Homo sapiens: one gene and its partners. The protein of the gene in region 1 interacts with the protein of each later gene in a biochemical or structural test. Each region holds a gene or a part of one and is shown in the gene's direction. Other genes may lie near its edges. The genes, in order: FARP2, CDK6, PDZK1 and CDH1.

Evidence for each region.
Region 2: the proteins of FARP2 (region 1) and CDK6 form a complex in vitro, tested with the Homo sapiens proteins (one study listed by BioGRID).
Region 3: the proteins of FARP2 (region 1) and PDZK1 form a complex in vitro, tested with the Homo sapiens proteins (one study listed by BioGRID).
Region 4: the proteins of FARP2 (region 1) and CDH1 form a complex in vitro, tested with the Homo sapiens proteins (one study listed by BioGRID).

The regions. Positions count from the first base shown.
Region 1 is NC_000002.12:241,351,728-241,359,293, forward strand, and holds the start of FARP2 (FERM, ARHGEF and pleckstrin domain-containing protein 2), read left to right. Parts: upstream 1-4,557; 5' UTR 4,558-4,661; intron 4,662-7,566. UniProt on the Homo sapiens protein: Functions as a guanine nucleotide exchange factor that activates RAC1. May have relatively low activity. Plays a role in the response to class 3 semaphorins and remodeling of the actin cytoskeleton.
Region 2 is NC_000007.14:92,721,573-92,728,594, reverse strand, and holds part of CDK6 (cyclin-dependent kinase 6), read left to right. Parts: intron 1-2,801; coding exon 2,802-2,969; intron 2,970-7,022. UniProt on the Homo sapiens protein: Serine/threonine-protein kinase involved in the control of the cell cycle and differentiation; promotes G1/S transition. Phosphorylates pRB/RB1 and NPM1.
Region 3 is NC_000001.11:145,683,353-145,690,374, reverse strand, and holds part of PDZK1 (Na(+)/H(+) exchange regulatory cofactor NHE-RF3), read left to right. Parts: exon of another isoform or gene 1-266; coding exon of another isoform or gene 267-324; intron 325-2,351; coding exon of another isoform or gene 2,352-2,353; coding exon 2,354-2,563; intron 2,564-3,648; coding exon 3,649-3,898; intron 3,899-7,022. UniProt on the Homo sapiens protein: A scaffold protein that connects plasma membrane proteins and regulatory components, regulating their surface expression in epithelial cells apical domains.
Region 4 is NC_000016.10:68,732,431-68,740,311, forward strand, and holds the start of CDH1 (cadherin-1 isoform 1 preproprotein), read left to right. Parts: upstream 1-4,861; 5' UTR 4,862-4,985; coding exon 4,986-5,033; intron 5,034-5,866; coding exon 5,867-5,981; intron 5,982-7,881.

The DNA.
Region 1 (7,566 bases):
AAAATTTTACTTTTAGATCGATAAAATTTTATTTCTGTATACTTTCTAGTTTTGCAGCATTTCCAGTTTCCAGGAGCCTCATGAATGGCTTTTTGGTTTAGTTAACTTTGTGGTCATGTAAGCCCTGCCTTTTGCTCAGTTTATGACCTTTGTTAAGGAGAAAAGTAGAACTGTTAATAATTAACGCAGCAGACATTGCCTCACTCCCACTTAAGTGTGTTTTGTTTTCTTTTTTCTAGAAAACACTTTCCTGGATAAAAAAGAAAACATTCCAGATGCATGATCCAGCTGTGTGTTTTCAATCCTTGGGAGGGTGCCATCCACATTTTAACAGTACCTGTGCCTGAGAATTTAATTTTTAAAAGACTTTGATGTGTTTTTGTATGAAGTACTTTTAACGTATGTATTTCATTGCTGTGTCACACTCTGTGTTTTGTGAGGTGAATGTCTTCCTTTTCTTTCTCCCTAACCACTAATGTTAGAATTGATTTCCAAGAATCGGCATGTATACTTAATACTGAATTTCTTTGATTTAACTGACTTAACAACTGACTAACCATTGATGAGCACTCCTGATTTTTATCTAGAACATTCAGATTTACCATAATGTTCCTTAGTGGTAGAGGTGTGTGCCTAGTGATGTAGAAAGATACACTGACTTGGTGCAAGGCCATCTGCTTACCACATCACACCACTTGGAGATCTTTGCTTCCTTGCTTTTATGTTTGTACACAACACCTAAAACCAGTTTTGCTGCTATAATTCTATACTGTTGATTCGTCTGCGATTTTATCTGTTAACCAAATAAAACATAATAGAATTTCCTAATGAGATATATCTTTATACTTAAACAGCTTTTTTAGAGGTGAGTTTTAAAGAAGTCTCTTAATTCTGATGCTAGGTTGTTTTTAAAACCACTATGCAAAGAACTCACCACAAGCCACCTTTTGTAGTGTTCTCCACTAATACTGGTTATCCTGTGCTACAGAGAAAATCAAAGCAGTCATAAGCTCCAGTTTTCGTATTGCAAATAAGACTCTTACCTACAAAATGAGATTCAGTGAACTAATTTGGTTTTTACTCAACCAAATTAAAAATTTTTTTAAGGAAAATTAGCAGTTGGTCTATTCAGAATCAAACCTTTTTATATTTTATACTGCACTTTAGTGTATTTTCTGTCACTGTAGGTATAGAAGATCTGCCTCCCCTGTGGAAATTGGGGTCTGTTGGTGGGCGTGCCCCTGAAGCCTGGCTTGGGTTGAAAAGTGTTCCCGCCCTAAGGCCTTGGTGCCCTGAACCTCTGATGCCTACCGGGTTCTCCTGATTTGAGTTTCCTTTAAATACTCCCTTTTTGAGTAATTTTCTGATGGGAGGAAAGTAGCAGTCATCATCTTTTTGTGTGCAGGCTGTCTCATTTATTTTTAGCCATTGTCGTTTCATTCATTTTGTGTAATATAAACCGTGTGTCATGTCAAAGTGAAAGACATTTCAAATCTGTAGCATAGGCTAGTGGGCAGGTCCGCACAGTCGAAGCCACACCTGGTCTGTTTTCTGTGCACTGTAGCCTTAGTGTCACCTTTCTTCTTGTGTCTCCTTATGGTACACTCCAGCGGTTGCCTTTTTTATCATTTCTACTGAAGTTGGGAAATTCAACCCCAGAAATTGACAGATGAAAGGAGACAATGGTTGTGTAGGGAGATGGAGAAAATGCTTAATCTGAGGATGAGACAGGGTTTTTTCATTTTTGTGGGGGCTAGAAAAAACATAAAATGAGGCAGTTAAATAATAATAGTTAATGAAGGTGTGCTACAGAAAATAATCTGGTGTTCTTGCTAACTTTGCCCTTCACTGTTGCTTAATTGTGAACAGCCAAAAGCTATATGTTATGGCTTATTGTGTGAAGGTAACTAAGAAGTGGTGTTCCATGACTTCAGAGTACATCCATGCGGAGTCCATTATTTGAGTTTGACATTTAATAACTTTGCTGGAAAATCTGTAAAAAAGAAAAACAAGTTTGCTAGTGACTAAGCCCCGCATATGTGAGTGAAAGTACTTCAGGCACGCTGCCTCCTGGTAACAGCTATGCAGGGAGGGAGGACCCACACTGCTACACTTCTGATCCCCTTTGGTTTTACTACCCAAATCTAAATAGATACTTTTGATAATAGATAACTGCTCTTTTACTAAGACATAGTCTCTACCTATAGAAATGTATTTTGAAAACACTTATTTTACACAGCAATTTTGTATCCATTTAAACTAACCTTTTATCAATAAAGCACTATTGTTTAGATATTAAATGAGTATTTCTCTTGGTTATTTGCAAGGGAAAGTTGTGAGGTTTTCTGGGAAAATTCAAAGTCTTGACAACATCTTTGTATAAAATCAAGAAAAATTACTTGAATCAATAGTGTCAGTACTGGACAAGTTTGTACGTATTGGAGATCCAGCCCAAAAGAAAGCACAAAAGATTGGAAAGGAATTATTTACAGGTGATCAGAACATCTACTTAGAAAGTACAAGACATCTGGTGAAAATTAACACTAAGAAGTCAGTGATATCTATTTTCTAATTAGAAAATGTAGTGAGAAAAGAAATCGCATTGATAATAGCAACTACTAAATTACTGGAAATATAAGTGAATGATTGAAATATATCTAGGAAGAAATTTCTAACCTATAAATTTTCAAGAATAGGCTAAGGCGGCTCTGCCACTTGAGTAAAGGAAACTGGAAACCTGAATTGATCTGGGTGGCTGGACACCTACACTCCAAGGCCTCTAGCCTTCTTCCTGCCCACTGGACTGATCATCCCAGGACCACCTTGGGCCCCTTTTACCTTGCTATCAGTGTTTTCTGAGCTTCCTTATAGACAGACCCCTGGATACTGAAACTTGCTCTCTCTAGTTCCTCAGCTGACAGCTGCCACGCCTGCTGCCTTCCCTCCAGACTGCCAGCCTCAGGTCACCAGCACACACCCTGCATCCTACCAGGGGTCAGTACCACCCTCTGGCCAGGCTCTCACCTGCACTATCCCCACCCGGCCCTGCCCGTCTGCAGGCAGGGATCCTCTGTTCTGGGGTGTGTGCACCACTCTGGGCCTGGTGGTGTCATTGGGGGTTGGTTAAAGGAAAAGCCCCAGAGGTGGGTGGCACATGAGGGGAGCATCCCGCACAGCTGAGCCCAGTCTTGGTGTGCCTGGGTCTCAGACCCCATAGTTGTCTCAGGAGAAATGGAGGTTCCCCTGAGCCAGCATTTCTCCTGTCTGGGCTTCTGGGAAACGAAGGGTCAGGTTTCACTCTGGAATCCACAGCACCATAGGAGGAGTCTCTTAAGTGCCCGGGTGTTTCCTGAAGTTAATTATTCCCTCAACAGCCACATGGTGACAGTGGGTGACAGGGCCGGGCTAGGAGAGCACGATGGGTAGGGTCTTGAAGAACACATAGGAGTTCAATGAACTTCTCAAGAGAAGGGAAGTGTGCCACAGCAAGTCAGTCTTCCATTCTCGGGTGGGGGTCCCTAGGCCAGAGGAAGGCCGTCCTGGCCGCCACCACGGAGCAGCCTGTCTCAGCCTTAGCACAGCCTCGCGCGATCCTTCGATGATCCCCTTCGGTCCCTGTAGTCCCACGAGGGATGCAATGCGTTGGAGGAAGGAGGAGGCTGGCAGCCAGGGACTGAGCCAAAGGGTGCAAGGACAGCCGGCAAGGCCCGGGCCAAGACCTATCCCCGCCCAGCGAGCCAGGCCTCGCCCAGCACCTATCCGCGCCCAGCAAGCCTAGGCCTCGCCCAGCACCTATCCGCGCCCAGCAAGCCTAGGCCTCGCCCAGCACCTATCCGCGCCCAGCGAGCCTAGACCTCGCCCAAGACCTAGCCCCGCCCAGCGAGCCGACTCCCCGCCCAGGACCTAGCCCCGCCCAGCGAGCCGACTCCCCGCCCAGGACCTAGCCCCGCCCAGCGAGCCGACTCCCCGCCCAGGACCTAGCCCCGCCCAGCGAGCCGACTCCCCGCCCAGGACCTAGCCCCGCCCAGCGAGCCGACTCCCCGCCCAGGACCTAGCCCCGCCCAGCGAGCCGACTCCCCGCCCAGGACCTAGCCCCGCCCAGCGAGCCGACTCCCCGCCCAGGACCTAGCCCCGCCCAGCGAGCCGACTCCCCGCCCAGGACCTAGCCCCGCCCAGCGAGCCGACTCCCCGCCCAGGACCTAGCCCCGCCCAGCGAGCCGACTCCCCGCCCAGGACCTAGCCCCACCCAACGAGCCGACTCCCCGCCCAAGATCTAGCCCCGCCCAGCGAGCCTTGGCTTCGCCTAGGACATTGCCTCGCTCAGCAAGCCGACGCCCCGCCCAACGAGCCGAGCGCTGCACAGATTTATATCCTACGCAGCTGCCTGCCTGCTCCCGCCCCTTCTCCGTCCGTTCACCAATCAGAACTCGATCTTGCGCTTTCAGGCCGCGGGACGGGAAGGCTCCGCCCTGGCGCCCCGCAGGCCAATCGACTGCGCGTCCGCGTCGCGGGGGCGGGGTCAGGGCGGGGCGCGCTGCGCGGGGGCTGCCGGCGGGCAGTTGGGAGCAGGCGACGCCGACGCGAGTCTGGCGGCTGCTGCTTGCGACTGCGGAGGCCGGGCGAGGCCGGTGAGGACGCGGCGGGCGAGCGAGAGGCCGAGGGTGAGGACGTGAAGCGGCCTGGGCGCGTGGGGCAGGGGTGGGCCTCTCCGGGTGGGCGGCGAAGCCCGAGGCCCGAGGCGAGAGGCCCAGGCGGGGGGGGCGCTGAGGCCGCGGTCCACCAGAGATGGTCCCGCCCGGCCTCTGAAGGCCATCGTGAGGCGGCTGGAGCTCCTAGGCGGGTCCGGGTTAGAGGAGCGTCCGTCTGTAGGGAGCCTGCCGCGTGGGGGCAGGCGGGGCGGTGGGCCGGGGAGTGGCCCGCGTGGACTCCCGGGTTGAGGGGTGCCGCGTGGAGGAGGCCGGTGGGGCTGTAGACCGGGGAGTGTCCCGCGTGGACTCGCGGGTTGAGTTGTGCCCCGTGGAGGCCGGCAGGGCCGTGGGCCGGGGAGTGTCCCATCCCGGAAGGACACCCCAGAGTGGGCCATAGGGACCCGCAGGGTATGGGCCTGGAGGTGCCTGGTGGAGGCATTTTGAGCCGTTTGCCTTTTTAGCATTTCTTTAAATTGTATCTTAAAGGTGGGAATCAAGTGTTAGGTGTTAATATTTTTACTCCACTAAGGGCTAGAAATACTCATAAGCCAGTGGGTAGCCTTTGGGAAACCCATGAAAACTGGGGACCAGAATATGGCCCAGTACATTACACACCCGAATTACGGGCACCTTTTCCGTTTACGCTATGGCAGCAACCCCTGGCCTATCATGTGCCATTAATGGATGTGAAAAGCAGAAATTAGAACAAGGCATCATTGAAGGAAAGATTGTCAATACATAGTGTTAAAAAGGGATGGGCAAATTTAAAACCCAAGGCCAAATCTTTAAAGGGTGGTTTTTCTCTCTGGGTTTTTGTTTTTGTTTTGTTTCCGTGGGATATTTTTGTCTGGGCCACTGTGTAAATGTTTGATAACCCTGAGGTGGCAGTGGGTTAGCGTGTTGGTCTTGTGTAGACTGCCTTATAACAGGCGACACAGATTTTCTCAGTACCAGAGAGATGGGAGAGGACATTTGAGGTAGGGAAGCATGGAGTAACCTTTACTTGTAGGCCAAATATAATTTAAATTTTCTACATCTGCTTGTTGAAAGTTTTGTTTTGTTTTGTTTTTTGAGGTCCTTAAAGGTTTAGGAAGCACTTCATGCTCGTTATTTATTCAGTTTTCCAAAACTCTTCAGAGACATGACCAAGTTGCACAGCCCCGTTTTAAAGTAGAGGAAAGGGAGGTTGAGAGAGGTGGAATGACCAGTTTAGGGTCACACCTAGGGTACTTGCAAATACCATCTGTACTTCTCATGTGCCCTATCCTTGTTGCAGATTCTCATTAGGTGGTTCACTGTTAACAAACTAAATGCTGATGATGCAGTTTCCTGGACTGCAGACGTTTGCTGGCTTATTTACCTATAGGACTATCAGTCGTTAGTAAATTTCCAGGTTCCTTGTATACTAATTCCTTTCCCAAAGAGGAAGTTGATATAAGGTGTATTCATTTCTCTCTGCCTCAGGTTCCTTATTCAAAAAATGAGTTTAAAATTTACTTGGCCAGGCACAGTGGCTGTAATCCCAGCACTTTGGGAGGCCGAGGCAGGCAGATTGCATGAGCTCAGGGGTTCCAGACCAGCCTGCTCAACAGGGCGAAACCCCATCTCTACTAAAAATACAAAAATTAGCTGGGCTGGTGGCGCACGCCTGTAATCATAGCTACTTGAGAGGCTGAGGCACGAGAATCACTTGAACCCAGGAGGTGGAGGTTGCATTGAGCCAAGATTGTGCCACTGCACTTCATCCTGGGCGACAGAGCGAGACTCTGTCTCAAAAAAATAAAAAAATAAATAAAAAAAGCTGTGTTAACAAGATGCCTGGCACAAGGTAAGTGCTTAATAAATGTTAGCCATTATTATTATCAGGTGGACAAATAATCCGAGTAGAAAGTAGAACAAGCTAACCCTGGATATTTACAAAAAACAGTAGAGAAAAAATTAGGCAATAATTAAGCAAATTTATCCTGTTTAGAGGGAATGGTATGAACTGGATTGCCAAAGCAAAGATCAATGCATGGGCAATTCCATGTGAGCTCATTTAAATCCATTTGGCCCAAAGAATTCAGTTGCTTCCTTCCTTTCCAAACACCCCTGCTTCTAGTCACATCAATACCTCTTCTATATTCGGACAGTAACAGATTTTTCTTACTGCTGCTTGTCCTTTCAGTTTTGTTCTTATTTTTCCTTCACCCACTTTCATATCAGCTTGCCAGCTTCCCCTTTACTCAGTGCGTCATGAGCTTCATAAACACAGCATAGTGCTAGATATACAGGCAAAACCCCATTGTAGTGTTGGATACTGAGCTGAGGTAATTCCGGTCATGTTCTCTGAGATCAGAATATAGAGTCCTTTGACCATAGCGTATTTGTCAATGCCACAGGGAGTTGAAAAGTTGAGGATCCTACAAAGCAATATGATAAAGCCCAGTCTTTGGTGATTTTCTGGGGAGCGTTTAGTTGACAGTGATTCTATAAATTGGTCTAATCTTTTTGGAAAGTAGCAGTATGTGGCAAAGATTTTGATTTTGGAATCACACTTTTCAAAACAATCTGATAAACTTTGTTGTGTCAGTAGGGTAGAGTACTCCATAGCAAGTAAACATGCTTCCACAAGCTGAATCCCATCCTCCCATCCAAGGAAAATTTGAACCATTTTGATCCATGGAAATATGCTTTAAAATGTGACTTAACTGAAAAGTTGAAATGGTGTGTACACAGCAATCATAGTGTTGTAAAAATACATGAGGAGGTGAACAGGATCAGGAGGGTAGTTAGAGTGTTGTAAGTGGTTTTATTTTAAGAGTCATGAATTGTTTTCCCCTAAACTGGTGTTTTAGCTTATTGCCATTTTAAAATTCAAAAACAAAAAGGCCCTATA
Region 2 (7,022 bases), on another chromosome or scaffold:
AAACAAACAAGAACTAGACCTGTAGTATAAGTGCCAAAGTAACACAACTAAAACTGAATAATAATAATTATGGCATGTCCCAGGGTGAAAAACCATGCAGCCATTAAAAATCTCATTGTATAAAAAAAGTCATATTGCAGAATTTTATTAGTGGCAAAATGTTGATAATGAATTGTTACATGTTTTTAAAAGAGCTACAAAATAATGTGTACAGAATAATAACCACTTTTACTTAAATATACTTATACATCCAAATATAATAAAATACGTAATTTTTAAAAGACAGACTAAAAAGACACAAAAAAAGTTATATTAACAGTGAAGTTTTCTCTGTTCTCCAAGTAGTGGAATTTTTTAGTGATTTTTCTTCTTCTCTGGATTCTTAAAACATTTTATTAGTTTCTGCATTAAGCATGCATCTATACATCTTAGCAATTTTATAATTAAGAAAAACATAGTGTGTGTTATAACACAAATAAAAACGATGTGCATGTTTTTAAATTTGTATACTGCTAATTGGCTGCTAAAGTTGTTTGAACACTGCAGCATGAACCAAACAGATTTATTCTTTATACTGTTTTAAATGAGTGACACTTAACTGTATAGAGGCTAAAGATGATGAGCCAACAGGACATTACTTTAGGTTAGTCATGCTTTTTAAAATTCAGTGCTTACAAGTTGTGTGCATGTGTTTCCAATAAAGACTTATTTGCCAAAATGTTCCTTGAACATTTTGTGCTACATTTTCACACTCCTGTTTATTCATTACAACTTATTGGACCTGCAGTGCTTCTCAAGTCTTGAAGGGCTTTTCCTCCCCAATGCAGTCTTCTCCAGGGTTTTGGGAAGCTTAGAAGGTCACCCCTGCCAGTTCAGAATATTCACTCAGGGGGATCTCAGAAATGATTCTAGATCACTGCATACCCCCTCTAAGTGCTTTGTTCACACCGACCTTGTAGCAGTGGTCATGTTTTCTTTTAGTTGTTTGTGAATCAGTCTCCCCCAGAAATCAGGACACTTATCTTGGCAATAATCATCCTAATAATTACTGTTTGTCAAGTGCTTACCATATGCCAGAAACTGTACAAGCACTTGGCATACATTACTTCATTTAGCCCCCTTAATAGTAGGAAAAGTAATCGCTACTTTCTCCACTTTATAAAAGGAAAAACTAAGGCTTTGGTTTTGAACAAGCTAAAATATAAAGACAGAACTCCGAACTCTAAAGGAAGAACCAAAACCATAAACCAGTAACCAAATATACTGTTCTCGATGAGAGGATTCAGTGGTCCGGCCAATGATAAGTGTATCCTCACAGCCCCTTCCAGCTCTGAAATCCATGGTGGTACCCAGTCATTTTTCTAACCCTTGTATTAACAAAACAGCTCCATCCTCCCTTGTATACACCATTCTTATAATATTTGGGTCAGGGGAGTAGGTCACTCTTAATTTCCACACATTTCAGAGGATTATGACATCATGGCCAATGTCTTAGTTCCTACCTTCAGACACTGTCCCTGAGTATTAAATCTTGTGTATATTTGTATTGGTCCTAAAATTAGAAAAAGATCTGATATTGGTTTATATCCTGAATGATCCGCTCCTCCATACTGGTTAATAATAACAGTAATAAGCGCTGCCATTTACTGAATATTAACTATGGTGCTAAGTGCTTTACAATGATCCTATGATAAAGTGGGCTTTGTTACTGTCCCATTTTACAGACAGGGAAACTAAGCCTTAGAGAGGTTAAATGGCTTGCCTTATTTTACGTATTCATTTGTTCATTGATTTGATAAAGGAATACATTGGAGATTTGAATCGAGGTTTTCCAGACCCTAGTTTAAATCAAGACTCTGTTAATATTCTAAAACAGTTGATTAAGACTGGGCATGGTGGCTCACACCTGTAATCCCAGCACTTTGGGAGGCTGAGGCAGGAGAATAGCTTGAGCCCAAGAGTTTGAGACCAGCCTGGGCAACATAGTGAGATCGCATCTCTGCAAAAACTAAAAACATTAGCCTAGCATGGTGGCATGCACCTGTGGTCCCAGCTACTTGGGAGGCTGAGGCAGGAGGATCTCTTGAGCCAAGGAAGTCAAGTCTGCAGGGAGCCGTGATCACAGCACTGCACTCCAGCCTGGGCAACAGAGCAAGATCCTGTTTAAAAAAAAACAAACAGTTAATCAGCACTCTCTTGCTAGTATGACTTTGGGCTAATTAGTAGCCTACATCTGTGTATCAGTTTCTTGACCTGTAAAATGGTGTAATGATATTATTTACCTAAATGTTGTGGTGTGGATTAAATTATTTACTAAGTGGACAATGCTTAGAATAGTGCTTGATATATAGTGAGTGTTTAGTACTAGGTGCTATAAAATAATAATCACCATTAATAACAATATTATTATTCACTGGATTTTAATTGTTGAAATGGCACATTAAACAATAGAGAAGCAAAAAGTGTCCCCTCACGACCTCCTCCTTCCTCTCCCCAGCATGAGCCACTGAAACCAGTTTGGCAGATATCCTTCCAGAATGTTTCCTATTCCATCAAAAACTATTTTAAAATTGTCCTTTCATTAATAAAATACAGGTTGAGAGTGAAATTTTTTGCAGTGTTCTTGAAAGTGTGGGAGTGGAAAGGCAGGAAGGGAGACAATTCACTCATTCAGCCAATACCTGTCAAATGCCTGCCGCATGCCAAGCAGCCACAAAATGCTAAGGATTCGGCGTCCAGCATAGCAAATGCTCAACTTCCGTTTTGAGTGTTTACTGATTTTCTTTTTTTAATTTTATTAGGATATGATGTTTCAGCTTCTCCGAGGTCTGGACTTTCTTCATTCACACCGAGTAGTGCATCGCGATCTAAAACCACAGAACATTCTGGTGACCAGCAGCGGACAAATAAAACTCGCTGACTTCGGCCTTGCCCGCATCTATAGTTTCCAGATGGCTCTAACCTCAGTGGTGAGTGAGAGAGTGCTGTCCTTTTATTAAACTTATTTTTCCTATTTTGAATGACAGTCTGTCCCTCTTCCATGTCTCTAATGTTAGTACTGCCCATGACTAGTTGGTGGATAGAATGTCTTTGCCCATTTTTATATGGCAGTGGGTAGGCAGAAAGCATTCTGCTTACAGCTACAGTCACATCCAGCCTGGGCTTGTTGTGGACAGGATCCATTGCAGAAATAGCCTGTTGCATCTTAGCCACTGGACAGGAATCAGTTACAAGTTTCCAAATGCTTTCTGCCATAACCACTGTTTTCAGAGCTGTATGTACAATGCCTAGGGAACACACAGCTCAAGGTCAGGGAAGAAAGAGCACGAGCAACGTTGACCTGTCTGCAGCATCATGGTTTTGAGAAACAGAGTGCCTACACAGGTTTGTTAATGCACTCATCTGAAGCTATGGTGCCAGCTGTAAAGAAGAAATCAAATTCACAGTGAACTTGGATGATGCATGAACGTAGAGCACCGCCATGCCAGGTGAAGGCTCATATAACCCTGAATAGAAAGAGCGAACCCAACGGCCCTGTTTTGGCAAAAAATAACAGTTATGATACCCTGTTTCTTTTTGCCATTCAGCTGCAAAACCATAATAGCTATTGACATTGGTTAGCTTCTATTTCTCCATATAGTTCATTATTTCTCAGATGGATTTTTGTGAAATTCTGCACCCCAAATACAAAAAGAGCAGCCTGGAAATAGGTATTAATACCCTTCTCTTTGAAAGACCTGTTTTGCATACAGTAAATTCATGCCTTACGTACAGTAAATTAAATAAATAATATATAGCAAATTAAGTCTTAAGAAAAAGAATTTTAAAAAAGAAAATATCTTTGTATATTCAAAGAAATAAAAAAAAATAATCCGTATTGTCCATCTTTAGCCTCAAAGTGGTTCTCACATCAGGGACAGCATGGCCCTGTTGTTAAGTAATGATTGGCAACATCTTTGGTCATTCTGCACAGCAAAAAATTGTTTCCCTAAATTTCAGTAATACTACAGCTGATAAGTAGAAATTCAAGAGAGGAGTTAGAAATTCTCTGAGACAGATAACTTGCCTTAGGAAAAAATCCAATTTATAAAAGTGTTCCCCACCCCCTGCCCCCAGTCAAAATAGGGGTGCTACCACCTAGACACGTAAGACCAGTTACTTTCCAAACATTATAGACTTTTCCTAGGGCATCAGAACTTTTGATGCAGAGGATTCCTTGGAAAATGTTGCCATTGTTAGAAGATAAATCCTACTCATTTCCTCTTTGCCCAGCATACACCATTGCTTTAGAGGAGAAATGGCACGAGTTGATGTTTAAAAGATAGGCCTCAGCTTTGAGCACGGTCAAGCAAGCCCTTGTATTCTTATGTAATCACACCAGAAAGGGCTGAGTCTGTGTATTTCCCCAGTGGGAAGGGTGAGGTAGGCTTTGAGTTTCCCTAGGAAGTTGTTGCGCATGTTGTTTTGGGGCCCTGGGGAGAAGCTTGAATAGGCTTTGTGATCCAGAGAGTCATCAGGGGAGTAGATGGAAGGAACTTGTCTCCTTGGGTACGTTAATTGAAGGAAGGATAAGCTGTAACTGAGATGGACGCTTTTATTTTAATCCCCCCAAATGGGCACTAATAACCATAAATAAAAACAGGAAACCCAGTTGGTTTGTGTTTGATTTTTTTTTTTTTTTTTTGCTTATTAAATTTGAGCTTGTGCGTAACATCAATTAACATTCCATTCTTGCTGAAAGTTGATATGTTCAAACAGGAAAATGTAGACAAATTATTTCATAGAGGAAAAGGAGAAAGGCAGTCATAAATACACAATTTTTCAGTATCTAGTTTATACTGCATGCTTTATATTTCCTATAGTGACATAAGTAAAACATGTTAGCAGCTGAGAAGGATTCTAAAACAAAAATCAGACTTTATTGGAAAGAGTGACGGTTGGAATTTAATGGTAATAATAAAGGGTATGTTCCTACAGGGTACTGCATTTTAAAATTTCCCCACTCTTTTGTATTTTTCTATTTAAAGGAAATACCCATTTAATATAGTAATGCGTCGATTTATATACACATGGTGACATAAAAACTTGGAATCATAGTTTTTTAGACTGAACTGGTATGTATTTTTAGTGTCTCTTGAAGAGAAAAAGACTACACTCCTCTTCCTGGAAATACACATTTTTTAGTGGGTTATGTCATACAGGAACTGAGAATCAACTTAATTTGTGGAATGTTAAAGGAATTACAAGTTAACTGATTCAAAACTGACATCTTAAAACTATGAGAAATGCTAGTATTTTACTTACCTTGCAAAGCCTGACTCCAGAGGTACCCTTTCTAGTATCCCCTTCAGAAATTAATTTCTTTTTCCTCTCTGTTTCCAGAGTAATATTTTGGGTTTTTTTGTTTGTTTTTGTTTTTGAGACAGAGTTTCACTCTGTTGCCCAGGCTGGAGGGCAGTGGCCCTATCTCAGCTCACTGCAACCTCTGCCCTCCGAGTTCAAGCGATTCTCGTGTCTCAGCCTCCCAAGTAGCTGGGATTACAGGCCACCCCAGGCTAATTTTTGTATTTTTAGTAGAGGCAGGGTTTTGCCATGTTGGCCAGGCTGGTTTTGAACTCCTGACCTCAAGTAATCCGTCCTCCTCAGCCTCCCAAAGTGCTGGGATTACAGGCATAAGCCACTGTGCCCAGCCTATAATACTGTTTTCTGTCTTGTTTTTAGTTATTTGGGAATTTTATTTATCAGGCCATAAGTTCCTCGAAGGCAGATGCTCATCTTATTCAGCCCTAACACACAGTGCCTTGTTTATTTTGATAGGCACTCAGGAAATATTTTTCAGTGAATAAATTGACAAATGCTGACTTGCAGATATAAGCAGTTGAGTCATAACAGGAATAGAGAAGGAGCTATGTTATACATTTAATGGTCTCATTTGATGTGTGTCAATATTCCTCATAGCTACCTGGTAATATTAAGCTGAAGGACTTACTCCATATACCTTAAAATGGCTGAGTCCATTTTGCACCCTAGTCCTGATTGATTTATTGGCAGCACATATCTGTGTTCAAAATCATGAAAGCTATTAATACATGCTGTAGCTCAATCTCAAGTTAGGAGTGAAAAGTTGACGCAAACCCAAGTTCACAGTCTGTGTATTGTTTTTATCATAATCCTTTCTACTGCCTCAGGAACAAATTACATATATGAATTGAACTTCCTGTCCTGAACAGAAAGCTGTAGAGATAGAGGAATGTAGCATTATTGTAATTTTACTTATTTGAAGACTTTCTTTAGCCCCTTGTGTTTTGTTATTAAAGCAAGTTTTAGAAGAGGAGTCATATTCTTCTAAGATAATTAACATCCTCTAAATGAAAGAATGGGTGAATTACTAGACAACTTTTACTATCTATGTTAATATATATATATTTACATAATAAATGATATTTCTATTTGAACAATTATAAAAGCTTGTATTATTAGCTTCTTTCTGAAAACTTCAAAATGTTCTTACATATAGAACTTTGAGGGAGCAGTTAACAGTATTTATTTTCATTTTAAGTTCATGATCACCTGACAGATCCTGAAGTACTACTTCTCCTTAATTTCTGAGCCAGTATGCTCTATGCCAGTATTCAAGACAAGGCATCTTTTGGATTAATTGAGAAATTAGTTGTTCTAGACAGGTAAGCTTTCCAGGCATCTTAAGGTATAACCCTTTATATTATGATCTTTATTATTTTATTTTTCTAGTGAAAACAAGTTTCTTGTTAAGAAACACGAGTTTCATAAGTAGAATATACTTCATATGTTGGCCTTTGGTAGAAATTAATTTAGGACAGTAGCCTGGACCATAGTTGTAGCTGTAGGTGGTATGCAACATCGGGCTGAATGACTTATCTTGTCCTCATCTGATAAATTGAGGACTAATCAAAGAGTTAAATGTCTTTTGCCTAACTTTGCCAGGCTGCCTCCAACATGACATTCTGGTGTCTTTATGGGGTATTGGGTTCTTGCTGCTCAAT
Region 3 (7,022 bases), on another chromosome or scaffold:
CTCGTCTTTCTTTTCTGATTTTTTTTCTTTTGGGGTCTTTTGGCCCTATGAAATGGAAAGGTGTAGGGATCTACAGGTGAGCTTGGACATAGATGTGAACTCAAGCTGAAACTGAACTGATGCTCGCAGGTTGGGATCAGCAGAAAGAGGAGTGAAAGGTGAGGGAGCTGGAATGGGCCACAAACAGGTGCCTGGATGTGACTCAACTCTGGTGATGCCATATTTTCTCCTTTCATCCCAGAGTGGTGTTTTCCTGGCAGCTGGTCATGGCTTTTGATAAGGCAGAGCTGCCTAGCTCTCCCAAGGTGCTGGTGTTGACCACTGGTGAGTGGCTTTGCTGTTTTCTTGCCTCAATGCTCGATGGGGAGTCTATTTGTTTGCTTCTTTCTTCGCTACTTAGTCACTCGTGCCACTGGTGGCGTGGGGCTTCAGACTTTGCGGAGACTGCAGGAGAGGCCTGGTATTGGGCAGCTGGGGGCTCTCTGTCTGATTTGTACTGTACGTCTCTGTGGGCATGAAGGTCAGGGATGGCTATCTTCAATCACCATGCCATGGCTTCTAGGGTGCCTGGAGCACTTTGTGGCCTATTCTTCACCCTCCCCCATATCCTGTGTGGTCATCCGTTCTTGTCCCTCCAGGAGGGAAGGGATAGGTGGTTTATTCTGATTTGTAGGTAGGGAACTGTGATGAGAGGAACTTGAGGGCTTGCCTTGCAGGTGGTGTGAAGAGCAGACTCCAGTGCTCTGTTGTGAGCCTTCTGCCTTCTGTATCAGCCTCTTGCTGTTCTGGCCCCTGTTCTTATTCTCCTATAAAAGAAAAAGCTTTCAGCCAGCAGGTGTCGGGGCACTGGCAGAAGTCTTACCCTTAATAATAACTGTGTGCCGGAGCCCTAGCTGTCGGTTTTACACTTGTCCTGTCTTCCTCCTATGGCTCAGGACCTTGCCCCTGCAATGGGGCAACAGGAGGGGCAGGATGAATGGAAATAGAAGCTGCTTCAGGCCAGGCATGGGGGCTCATTCTGTAATTCCAGCACTTTGGGAGCCTGAAGCATGAAGATCACTTGAGCCCAGGAGTTTGAGACCAGCCTGGGCAACAAAGCAAGACACTGTCTCTAAAAAAATTAGTTAGCAGGGCATAGTGATATGTGCCTGTAGCTCCAGCTATTCAGGAGGCTGAGGTGGGAGGATCGCCTAAGCCCAGGAATTCGAGGCTGCAGTGAGCTGCGATTGCGCCACTGCACTGCAGCCTGGGTGACAAAGCGTCTGGGAGGGAGAGCCCCAACCTAGCCACTGGAATCCCTTTTCTATCGAGCATCTCTTTTCTGCTGTGGCTAGAGACTTCAGGGGCCAGAACAGCCTTTTCTAGTGCATCTCCAACATATTGGACCAGCTCTAAGGCCTGGTGTCCTTTTTTTTTGAGGCAGAGTCTCACTCTATTGCCCAGGCTGGAGTGCAGCAGTGTGATCTCGGCTCACTGCAATCTCCACCTCCCAGGTTAAAGCAATTATCCTGCCTCAGCCTCCCGAATAGCTGGGACAACAGGTGGCTGCCACCACGCCTGGCTAATTTTTGTAATTTTAGTAGAGCTGGGGTTTCACCATATTGGCCAGGCTGGTCTCAAACTCCTGACCTTGTGATCTGCCCGCCTCGGCCTCCCAAAGTGCTGGGAATACAGGGGTGAGCCACTGTGCCTGCCTTTTTTAATGGTTTAAGCTCTTCCTTGTCCTGTCCTACCTCACCAAGCTTCTACTAATCCTTCAGTTCTTGGAAGTGTCATTCCTTCAGGAAATGTTCTTTGTTCTTCCCATCCCGCTCCCTATTCCCAAGACCCTTTGTTATTTTCCCCCTTATCACTGCATTCTTCCCCAGCATGACACTCACCACGTGTGGTTATAGGAATGTAATAATGTTCCCCAATAGAAGAGGCAAGGTATGGGTCCATCTTGTCTACAGATTTAACCTCGATTCCTTGAACTTGAAAAGCTCTTCAAATGTTTGAATGAGAGTGGGCTTGTCATAAATTTTTTGGGTCATGTATTTGGACTTAATTTCTTTAGGTCAGAGGACAAAGAGGAGTTTGGTTGGAGATACTGAAATGGAAGCATCTGTGTCCAGTACTCAGTAAAAAATACGTGGGTCTGAAACTCTAGTAAAAAGGTTGTCCTTGGGGAAACAGATTTGGAAATCATTAGCAAGTTCTGGAAGGTGTCCTCCTGTGCCCCCAGCATTACTACCCAAGCAGTCTAGATTTGGTGATTGGAAGAACAGAATTATAGGAGATGGAGGATGGGGTTCTCACTCCAATTAGATTCTCTTTTCCATGGTTTTATTAATTTATTTTTTTCATCACAGAAATGACCTCCACCTTCAACCCCCGAGAATGTAAACTGTCCAAGCAAGAAGGGCAAAACTATGGCTTCTTCCTGCGAATTGAGAAGGACACCGAGGGCCACCTGGTCCGGGTGGTTGAGAAGTGTAGCCCAGCAGAGAAGGCTGGCCTTCAAGATGGAGACAGAGTTCTTAGGATCAATGGTGTCTTTGTGGACAAAGAAGAACATATGCAGGTGAATGAGACATTTGGGGCTTTTCTTCCAGGATCTCTTCAGCCCCCACATCTTCTCTGCTGATTATAATTTTGGGGGTTGGTAGAGTTTGGTTCTTTCCTGGCTGCCACTGGCAAGGCAGGACACCTTTATTGCTGTACCTTGTGTTGGCCAATCAAGTCCCCTATGAGGAACCAAGAACTGTACACATTACTCTTGGATTTGAATAGCGTTAGGTCTAACATGAATTGCATGTTCACTATATACCAAAAATGGTGCTAGGTATTTTTTTTTTTTTTTTTTTTTTTGAGATGGAGTTTCGCTCTTTCACCCAGGCTAGAGTGCAGTGGTGCGATCTCGGTTCACTGCAAGCTCTACCTCCCGGGTTCATGCCATTCTCCTGCCTCAGCCTCCCAAGTAGCTGGGACTATAGGCACCCGCCACCACACCCAGCTTTTTTTTTTTTTTTGTATTTTTAGTAGAGATGGGGTTTCACCGTGTTAGCCAGGATGGTCTCGATCTCCTGACCTCGTGATCCGCCCGCTTCGGCCTCCCAAAGTGCAGTGATTACAGGCATGAGCCACCACGCTCGGCCAGCAATTTTATATTCATTATCTTGTTAAGTCCTCATCATGACCTCATAAGGTATATGTTACAATTTCACAGATTAGGAAGCTAAGTACAGATATCTTAGCTTGCTAACATGTTCCTGCTGAGGATATATGGGAGAGTCTGGCCTTACCTTATTCTGCCTGACTCCAAAAGCATGGTCTTTTCCTTACACTGTGCTGTCCCCATGCACACGGGAGGAATGGTTACAATCTAGGGCAGCGCTCCTCTCTAGAAAGGACCAGTCTTGTAAGAACCCTCTGGGCTGGGGTTGAACCACACTCTATATTCCAGCAGTGCCAGAAGCTCAGCCTAATCTGCACCTGGATCTCGGGAGGGCAGGGATGGAGGTGGCTGAGGAACTACCTGCTTCTACTTGGGTGTCAAGGGTCAACTAGCAGCATCTCCAGGGCCAGATATTGAGCCAGATGGTCAGCATTTCCCTCTGGCAGTTGGCAGAGGGTTATTAAAGTTACCTTTTTCTTCTTCCCTCCTAGGTTGTGGATCTGGTCAGAAAGAGTGGGAATTCAGTGACTTTACTAGTTCTGGATGGGGATTCCTATGAGAAAGCAGTGAAAACACGGGTGGACTTGAAAGAGTTGGGTCAAAGTCAGAAGGAGCAAGGTTTGAGTGATAATATACTTTCCCCTGTGATGAATGGAGGTGTGCAAACTTGGACCCAGCCCCGGCTCTGCTATCTCGTGAAGGAAGGAGGCAGCTATGGCTTCTCTCTGAAAACTGTCCAAGGTGAGAATTTTTTGGGGAGCAGGGGGAGGCAGGGGCAGGGCACAGACAACAGGCTTCCAGAACAAAGATGCTACTGGTTAATGACTTTTCTTCTTTGACTGACTTTTCAGTTGCTATAGATAGCTTGCAACAGCTTGCCTCCCTCCGTCTCTCACTCCCTCCCTGCCCTTTCCCTTGCCTTGCACAGTTGTGCAATGGGGGAGGGACACTGGACAGCAGTGGGGGTGGGGGGCACTGGGTACTCCTGTCCCTGAGTGTTTGTCAGGCTGGCACTTGAGGACTCTTTGAGGTCAGGGGGCCAGAGGGTTGATGCTTCTAGCCCTCTTAGGGTGAAAATGAAGGGCAGAATAAGGAATAAAAGGCAAGAAAAATGAGATTCTTCATAATAGCTATTTTTGAGTAAGATTGGTATCTTTTTTTTATCTGAGTGCCCAGATAGTCATTCATTTATTCAACAAATTCTTGAGCACCTGCTGATGTGCCAGGCACTGTTACCTTTGCTGAGAATACCGCAAAAATTTCCACCCTCCTGTAACATTTTGATAGTACCCTCAGCTGCGGCTCAGCCCCACCTGTTCTGAGGCGCATCTTTGAGCTCTGGCTAAGAGGTACATAGTGATTTGAGAAACCCTGACCATCAGGAAGCACCAGAAGTTCTATTTCTAGAATTTCAGAGGTGCAGACTAACCTGTGTTCAGTTGACCGTGGCTCTGGGGTATTGGTTGGAACCAGAGGAGCTGTGTTAGCTGGTCAATTCCTTCTTGAACACTGCCTCTGCCTATGTTCTTTCTGGGGCTGGAGAAGCACTGGTGGTAGGTCATGATTTGGCAAGTGATACAGCAGCAGACCAGTGGTAAATTTAAAATAGTTTCTAAGGCTTATTTAACCTGTACCAAGAGATGTAAACTCACGATAAGGGGTATTTCTCAGGTCTGTCAGTTATTAAACACAGTGGTGTGTATAGTCAAAGGAAGCTTGGCACGTCTTAGAAGCCTATTATCAGTAAAGTGGTAAAAAAAAGAAAATCATAATTCAGATTCTACTCATCTGGCTCATGTGCTAATGCACATGGTGAATGGTTTAGGTTAGCTTTATGAGGAAAATGGTCTCTTCATGACAAATATATAACAAGGTAGCAGGAGAAATGCTGAGTGTTTAAGGAAGCAGAGTTTAAGTTATTGTCATTCCTTACAAGTGATTTATGTAGTCATTAGCAAGCGATCCCTTGCCTAGGTTGACATACAAGAGTCCCCCCTTATCCTGTTTGGCTTTCCATAGTTTCAGTTACCTTACCTGCAGGCAACTGTGGTCTGAAAATATTAAATGGAAAATTCCATACATAATTTTTGCATTGTGAACCATTATGAGTAGTGTAATGAAATCTTGTGCTGTCCTGCCCCGTCTTGGACATGAATCCTCTGTTTGTCTAGCATCTCCACGTGGCATGTGCTTACCTGCCTGTTAGTCTTACTACTTACTACTCAGTTACCAGGTCAACTGTCACGGTATTAAAGTACTGTGTTCAAATAATCCTTATTTTGCTTAATAATGGCCCAGCACAGAAAGAAAAATATCACATATTCTCATATGTGGGAGCTAAAAAAGGTGAATCTCATGGAGGTAGAGAGTAGAATGAGAGATACCAGCAGCTGGGAAGGGTATGTGTGTGGGGTAGGGTGGGGATGAAGAGAGCTAGGTTAATGGGTACAAACCCACAGAGAGAAGGAATAAGTTCTAATGTTTGATAGCACAGTGGGGTGACTGTAGTTAACAACAATGTATTGTACATTTCAAAATAGCTGTAAGAAGATTTGAAATATTCTCAACACAAAGAAATGATAAATGTTCAAGGATGGATGTCCTAAATATTACACCCTGATTTGTTCATTATATGCTCTTGGTATCAAAATATGACACACACCCTATAAATATGTACAAATGTTATGTATCAATAAAAAATAATAGCTCAGGCCGGGCGCAGTGGCTCACGCCTGTAATCCCAGCACTTTGGGAGGCCGAGGCGGGCAGATCATGAGGTCAGGAGATCGAGACCATCCTGGCTAACACGGTGAAACCCTGTCTCTACTAAAAATACAAAAAATTAGCCGGGTGTGGTGGTGGGCGCCTGTAGTCCCAGCTACTCAGGAGGCTGAGGCAGGAGAATGGTGTGAACCCGGGAGGCGGAGGTTGCAGTGAGCTCAGATTGCGCCACTGCACTCCAGGCTGGGCGATAAAGCAAGACTCCGTCTCAAAAAAAAAAAAAAAAAAAGCCAAAAATGCAAGGATAGTGATGCTGGCAGTTCAGATATGACAAAGAGAAGCTGTAAAGTGGCCGGGCACAGTGGCTCATATCTGTAATCCTAGCGCTTTGAGAGTGCGAGGCGAGTGGATTACCTGAGGTCAGGAGTTCGAGACAAGCCTGGCCAACATGGCGAAACCCCATCTCTACTAAAAATACAAAAATTAGCCAGGCGCGGTGGCAGGCGCCTGTAGTCCCAGCTACTCGAGAGGCTGAGGCAGGAGAATCGCTTGAACCGGGGAGGCAGAGGTTGCTGTGAGCCAAGATTGCGGCCCTGCGTTCCAGCCTAGGTGACAGAGCGAGACTCCATCTGTTAAAAAAAAAAAAAAAAAGGCTGTAAAGTGCTTCTATTAAGTGAAAAGTTCTCGATTTAATAAGGAAAGAAAAAATACTGTATGCTGAGGTTGCTAAGATTAGCTCAGTTATTGTTAATCTCTTACTGTGCCTAATTTATAAGTTAAACTCTATTGTAGGTATGTAAGCACAGGAAAAAACATATAGGGTTCGGTATACTATCTTAAAGTTTCAGGCCTCCACTGGGGGTCTTGGAATGTATCCCCCATGGTTAAGGGGGAACTGCTCTATTAATATCTTTGAAGAATTGACAGCATTTCTATAAGTAGCACCTAAATCTCACCACCTAAATGCATTCGGGTTCTTCCCTCCCTCCTGTGCCTGTCCTTGTTAGCCTACATTGGTGAGATGACTCCACAGCATACGATGGCTAATATAATAGTACAAACTGAAGAGGAGAGAATGGTAAAGATGCTTTCTGATTCTACAAATGCAAAGAAAGGGCGTATGACACAATAATGCAGTGTGGGC
Region 4 (7,881 bases), on another chromosome or scaffold:
TGGCCAAAACACCCAGGAAGTGAAAGTCTGTCCTCTGCCATAAGGAAACCTGGAGTCTGTGATCCCATCATGCGGGGTCTGTTATCTGCCAGGTGACAGGGTCTCTTATCTATCTGCGGTGATCTGAAGGGCAAGGCCTCTGGCCAAACATTTCTTTTCCCCAGTGATGCCTGAAATTCCACTGTTAGCGCTGGATCTCAGCAAGATCTCAGAGAAAGCTCAACTCCTGGAGTTTGGGTTTTCCCCAGTTGAGATGTTAGGAAAGCAATGGGCCTTATCACCTGCACGGACAGGTTTGTGTACAGTCTCAGGGGATTCAGGGACCCCACCAGAGCCCATCCACAGACACCAGGTTAAAAGCCCTGGACAGCATTTACAACTCCTTTGAAAGAAGAAAAGTCTTTCTCTAGAGCCCTCTTTAAAGTGCAAATGGCCCTGGGAGGTTCGAAATGATGAGCTGGCCGGCATGAAAGAATTTTCTCCAGTAGATGCAAGAGATAACCTGAGGAGCTTTAGTGGCGGGGGTGGGGGAAGGAGAGCCTGGGGGAGGGGAGGCTCCAGGCAGCTCACAATTTTTCCTAGAACTGGAAAGGGAATGTATTGGGCCAAGAGGGCTAATCACTCACCTTTGCAGAGTGTTTACAAGAACCTTATGAATTAAGTGCTATCAACATTCCCATTTTACAGATGAGGAAACCAAGATGGTGGAGATAAAATGACTTATGCTTCTCAACTAATGGCAGAGCCAGAAGTGAATCCAGGCTGGAGTGAAGTGGCTCCAGTGCTCAAATGATCCTCCTACCTCAGCCTCCAGAGTAGCTGGGACTACAGGCATGCACTGCCATGTCCAGCTAATTCAAAATAATATTTGTTGGGGAGATGGGGTTTCACCATGTTGCCCAGACTGGTCTCAAACTCCTGGGCTCAAGTAATCTTCTCACCTCCCAACTAGCCTCCCAAAGTGCTGCGATTACAGTTGTGAGCCACCAGGCCTGCTTAGGTATCCCTGTTTGATACAAGAGAAAACAGAGGGCAGGCACAGTGGCTCACACCTGTAATCCCAGCACTTTGGGAGGCTGAGGTAGGTGGATCACTTGAGGTCAGGAGTTTGAGACCAGCCTGGCCAACATGGCGAAATCCCGTCTCTACTAAAATACAAAAATTAGCCAGACATGGTGACGTGTGTCTGTAATCACAGCTACTCAGGAGGCTGAGGCACAAGAATCTCTTGAACCTGGGAGGCAGAGAGTGCAGTGAGCCGAGATCGCGCCATTGCACTCCAGCCGGGGCAACAGAGCAAGACCTTGTCACTAAATAAATAAATAGGAAACAGAGAAGCAATTCAGTGTGTTGCGAAAGTCACACAGCACCTGTCTTCCACAAGGAGCCCCTCTGTGTTCCCGCCTCACCCTGGACACCTGATCTACTGTCTTTGGAGCTTGGAGAAGGACTTGCCGAGAAGTCTGAAGAATGCATCAGGCCTGACCTGACTTTGCTGCCCCTAATTGTTTTCTAAAATCCTTTTTATTGAATTATCAGAGTGTAATGGAAGAGTCGATGAGAGTCGCTGCAGAGTTACGAGGCCAAGGCTTGCTGGGTAGAAGAAAGTAAAGCCCTAAAGGCTCCCAGGGCCCAGCGATGGTATAAAATATGTATTTTTACATAACTGAGAGGAAAAAAATAAGCAGACAGTACAGCCCCATGGGGGAAACGCCTCTTTCTGTATTTCCATTATCTTGTTCAAGGCACGATCCTAGTGGGAAAGGAAATACCGGAGCCTTCTCCCTCTGAGCCTCCTGGTGGGTTAAGAGCAGAGGGAGCCAAAATACGACATCCAAAAGACCTGATTGGAAACTCATTAAAATTGAGGGGACAGGTTGTTGGGGGGGGCGGTGCTGGGCTGCCCAGAAATCGTCTGCATTTGAGAAATTACTTGATGGACTCAGAGGCACCTTTAGCTCTGGGTGAAATATTCCAAACATGGCTTTCCCCAGGAGGAAGCGAAATAGGGGCTGGGCCTTTTGAAAGAGTAACCCCTACTCCAAATATTTATTGAGCAGTTGCTATGATGAGCCAAGAACTCTGCTTAGCGATTGTTTTTGTATTAGCTCATGCCAATTCACTTATACAAAGGAGAACACTGACTTCCCCAAGGTCACAGGGCTAGTGAGTGGCTGACTCCACTTAATGCTGTGTAGTTCTAACCATGCTTGAAGGATAAAGGGAAAGGAGGTGCCCTTGTCGGGGTAGACAAGCCACCCAGACGTGGCTGGCCACAGGGAGTCAGACAGGGAAGTTGTCTAACCTAACATTTGCCTGTCTATTCTGTTTTTGTCTTTTGATGGAGGACGGCGGGTGCTGGAGGGCCACTGGCCCAGGACCTGAGACCTTTGGCCCCTATCTATTCTATTTTTGATCCTAAAATTATTTCACTGGGGACAGAATTCTCTGGAGAAGGTGATGGTGGCCATGGTGTGGCTGTGGCATTAAAAGCCCCACTCTGGGGGTCAGAAGATCCTGGGTTTTGGTCTTTGGCTTTGACATTGACCTGCCTATGTGACATTGAACAAGTTATTTGCAAATCATAGGTTTGGGTGAACTCTAAAGGTCTCTTCCAGGTCAACATCAAAAAACAGACTGAAAACTGCAGCTCCAGCTGGAAGACTGGGACCACATGAGATGAAGCTGATTGTTAGAAGAAAGGCCCTGGAATCAGAGAGGTTGGTTCCAGTCCTGCGCCACCTCTCATTGGCCTCAATCTCTCTAAGCTTCAGTTGCCCATCTATCATATGGGAATAATAATACAGCTCTTGGGTTGTTTTGAAATGAGCTTAAATGAGCTGGTCAGTGGCTGGGCACGGTGGCTCATGCCTGTAATCCCAGCACTTTGGGAGGCTGAGGCAGGTGGATCATCTGAGGACAGGAGTTCAAGACCAGCCTGGCCAACATGATGAAACCCTGTCTCTACTAAAAATACAAAAATTAGCCAGTCGTGGTGGCGCATGCCTGTAATCCCAGCTACTCAGGAGGCTGATAGAGGAGAACCGCTTGAACCCAAGAGGCGAAGGTTGCAGTGAGCCAAGAACACACCATTGCACTCCAGCCTGGGCGACAGAGCAGGACTCCGTCTCAAAAAAAAAAGAGCTGGTCAGTGTCAAATGCTTAGCACAGAGACTGGCACAGTAATCTTCAATGTCCAGCACCTATTGTTACTATTTTTTTTTTTTTTTTTTTTTTGAGACAGAGTCTTGCTCTGTCGCCCAGGCTGGAGTACAGTGGCGCGATCTCGGCTCACTGCAAGCTCCACCTCCCAGGTTCATGCCATTCTCCTGCCTCAGCCTCCCGAGTAGCTGGGACTACAGGCGCCCACCACCACGCCTGGCTAATTTTTTGTATTTTTAGTAGAGACGGGGTTTCACTGCGTTAGCCAGGATGGTCTCAATCTCCTGACCTCGTGATCTGCCCGCCTCGGCCTCCCAAAGTGCTGGGATTACAGGCGTGAGCCACCATGCCTGGCCCTATTGTTACTATTTTTACCCCTCACTTCTGTACAGAGCATTTATGGCTCAAGAAACATTTGTCATTTTAATTGTATGGGAGTCCCACAACAGCATAGGGAGACATTTCTGATCATTATTCCCATTAGGAGGGTGGAGAAACTGAGGCTTTGGGAGGTGGTCCTGACCTAGGGAATCAATTTGCTGACTCACTAACCCATGAAGCTCTACAGTTAAAAAAGACTAGATTAAAAAATGAGAACTCAGTAAAGGGGCTGAGGCAGGAGGATCGCCTGAGTTCAGAAATTTGAGATCAGCCTCGGCAACATAGTGAGATCCCCTCTCTAGAAAAATTTTTTAAAAAATTAGGCCGCTCGAGGCAGAGTGCAGTGGCTCACGCCTGTAATCCAACACTTCAGGAGGCTGAAGAGGGTGGATCACCTGAGGTCAGGAGTTCCAGACCAGCCTGGCCAACATGGTGAAACCCCGTCTGTACTAAAAATACAAAATTAGCCGGTGTGGTGGCACACGCCTGTAGTCCCAGCTACTCAATAGGCTGAGACAGGAGAGTCTCTTGAACCCGGCAGGCGGAGGTTGCAGTGAGCCGAGATCGTGCCACTGCACTCCAGCCTGGGCAAGACAGAGCGAGACTCCGTCTCAAAAAATACAAACAAAACAAACAAACAAAAAATTAGGCTGCTAGCTCAGTGGCTCATGGCTCACACCTGAAATCCTAGCACTTTGGGAGGCCAAGGCAGGAGGATCGCTTCAGCCCAGGAGTTCGAGACCAGGCTGGGCAATACAGGGAGACACAGCGCCCCCACTGCCCCTGTCCGCCCCGACTTGTCTCTCTACAAAAAGGCAAAAGAAAAAAAAATTAGCCTGGCGTGGTGGTGTGCACCTGTACTCCCAGCTACTAGAGAGGCTGGGGCCAGAGGACCGCTTGAGCCCAGGAGTTCGAGGCTGCAGTGAGCTGTGATCGCACCACTGCACTCCAGCTTGGGTGAAAGAGTGAGACCCCATCTCCAAAACGAACAAACAAAAAATCCCAAAAAACAAAAGAACTCAGCCAAGTGTAAAAGCCCTTTCTGATCCCAGGTCTTAGTGAGCCACCGGCGGGGCTGGGATTCGAACCCAGTGGAATCAGAACCGTGCAGGTCCCATAACCCACCTAGACCCTAGCAACTCCAGGCTAGAGGGTCACCGCGTCTATGCGAGGCCGGGTGGGCGGGCCGTCAGCTCCGCCCTGGGGAGGGGTCCGCGCTGCTGATTGGCTGTGGCCGGCAGGTGAACCCTCAGCCAATCAGCGGTACGGGGGGCGGTGCCTCCGGGGCTCACCTGGCTGCAGCCACGCACCCCCTCTCAGTGGCGTCGGAACTGCAAAGCACCTGTGAGCTTGCGGAAGTCAGTTCAGACTCCAGCCCGCTCCAGCCCGGCCCGACCCGACCGCACCCGGCGCCTGCCCTCGCTCGGCGTCCCCGGCCAGCCATGGGCCCTTGGAGCCGCAGCCTCTCGGCGCTGCTGCTGCTGCTGCAGGTACCCCGGATCCCCTGACTTGCGAGGGACGCATTCGGGCCGCAAGCTCCGCGCCCCAGCCCTGCGCCCCTTCCTCTCCCGTCGTCACCGCTTCCCTTCTTCCAAGAAAGTTCGGGTCCTGAGGAGCGGAGCGGCCTGGAAGCCTCGCGCGCTCCGGACCCCCCAGTGATGGGAGTGGGGGGTGGGTGGTGAGGGGCGAGCGCGGCTTTCCTGCCCCCTCCAGCGCAGACCGAGGCGGGGGCGTCTGGCCGCGGAGTCCGCGGGGTGGGCTCGCGCGGGCGGTGGGGGCGTGAAGCGGGGTGTAGGGGGTGGGGTGTGGAGAAGGGGTGCCCTGGTGCAAGTCGAGGGGGAGCCAGGAGTCGTGGGGACGATCTTCGAGGGAAGGAGAGGGGCATCCGTAGAAATAAAGGCACCTGCCATGCCAAGAAAGGTCGTAAATAGGAGTGAGGGTCCCGGGGATAAGAAAGTGAGGTCGGAGGAGGTGGGAGCGCCCCTCGCTCTGAGGAGTGGTGCATTCCCGGTCTAAGGAAAGTGGGGTACTGGAGAATAAAGACATCTCCAATAAAATGAGAAAGGAGACTGAAAGGGAACGGTGGGCTAGGTCTTGAGGGGGTGACTCGGCGGCCCCCTCCCGGGAGTTCCTGGGGGCTCGGCGGCCGTAGGTTTCGGGGTGGGGGAGGGTGACGTCGCTGCCCGCCCGTCCCGGGGCTGCGGGCTGGGGTCCTCCCCCAATCCCGACGCCGGGAGCGAGGGAGGGGCGGCGCTGTTGGTTTCGGTGAGCAGGAGGGAACCCTCCGAGTCACCCGGTTCCATCTACCTTTCCCCCACCCCAGGTCTCCTCTTGGCTCTGCCAGGAGCCGGAGCCCTGCCACCCTGGCTTTGACGCCGAGAGCTACACGTTCACGGTGCCCCGGCGCCACCTGGAGAGAGGCCGCGTCCTGGGCAGAGGTGAGGGCGCGCTGCCGGTGTCCCTGGGCGGAGTAGGGAGGGGTTGGAAAGGGGCCGAGAAATTGCACTCCCACACCCCTGGGTTGCAATGGGCAAGCTCCCTCCTTGGCTCAAACGACACCCCTTGGAATTTACGCAGATTTGGGGATCCAAACGTTTACGACTGAACACTGTGGTGGAGGGGGTAACCCTGCCTGGTTGTTGACTATGTTATAAAGAAGAGGAGGTTGAGGGCACTTACTAGAAGCCTTCGTATTTCTCTTATTGCCCTCAGCACTGTAGAGACAGTCTCTCATTTCAGACTGCAAAAACCTGGTGGGTGGGAAGGCCTGGCAGGAGTATTCCCGTTTTACAGTTGAGCAAACCGAGGCTAAGAGAGTGACGTCCACTTGCTCAGGGTCAGCAGAGCAGATATCTGAACTGGGATCTGACTCCCAGGCCCCATTAAGCACCATCTCTGGGATGACTGAAGAGCAGCCCTCTCTTGGTTACTGGGCTGTGGCTTTTGTTTACAGATATAAAAGCTTTTTTTTTTTTTTTTTTTTTTTTTTTTAAAGACAGGGTCTTGCTCTGTTGCCCAAGCTGGAGTGCAGTGGCACAATCATAGCTTACTGCAGCCTCCATCCTCTGGGCTCAAGTGATCCTTCCCATCTCAGCCTCCCTAGTAGCTGGTTATCATGGGCATGTGCCACCACACCTGGATAATTTTAACTTTTTTTTAGGCTGGGCGCAGTGGCTAACGCCTGTAATCCCAGCACTTTGGGAGGCCGAGGTGGGCGGATCACAAGGTCAGGAGTTCGAGACCAGCCTGGCCAACATGGTGAAACCCCATCTCTACTAAATAAAAATATAAAAATTAGCCGGGCATGGTGGCGTGTGCCTGTAATCCTAGCTACTCAGGAGGCTGAGGCAGGAGAATTGCTTAAACCCAGGAGGCAGAGGTTGCAGTGAGCTGAGATAGTGCCACCGCACTCCAACCTGGGTGACAGAGCAAGACTCCGTCTCAAAAAATAAATAAAAAATAAATTTTTTTTTAGAGACAGGAGTCTCTCCATGTTGCCCATGCTGGTGTTGAACTCTTGGGCTCAAAGGATCCTTCTGTCTCAGCCTCTCAAAGTGCTGGGATTGCAGGCCTGAGAGACTGTGCCTGGACCAAAACATCTTGATACAGGTACTGTTTCCCCCAAGGAATAATGATTTTTTTTTTTTTTTTTTTTTTTGAGATGGAGTTTTACTCTTGTTGCCCAGGCTGGAGTGTAATGGCGTGATCTCGGCTCACTGCCACCTCTGGCTCCCAGGTTCAAGTGATTCTCCTGCCTCAGCCTCCTGAGTAGCTGGGATTACAGGTGCCACCACCATGCCCAGCTAATTTTTTGTAGTTTTAGCAGAGAAGGGGTTTCACCATGTTGGCCAGGCTGGTCTGGATCTCCTGACCTCAGGTGACCCACCTGCCTCAATCTCCCAAAGTGCTGGGATTACAGGCATGAGCCAGCACGCCTGGCCAGGAATAATGATCTTTTTTTAAAAAAAGCATGGTAGTTCTGACTCAGGATGAAAATGCATACACCCAATGTACTTCTAGGCCTTATCGTTGTGACAATCTAGAGTTTGCTTTGTTCCACTTGACTGTTGTCCAGGGAGCAAGGGAAGGGGCTAGTTTCTCTTCTGGTTTCACTGAATCCCAAGTGCTTCCTTTATATCAAACCACTTTCTCCTCTCTCATGATTTTACTTGATTGGGTATCACAATAAGAGGCATTTTTTTTTTAAGAGAAATCACCCACAATTCCCCTGAGGGAACACCTCCACTGTGTCATTCTTCCAGTCTTTGACCACATGAATCTTTAGCAATCACGCTGTTGTCTTTACATTTTTTTTTTGAACTTTGGAAGTCATTCGAA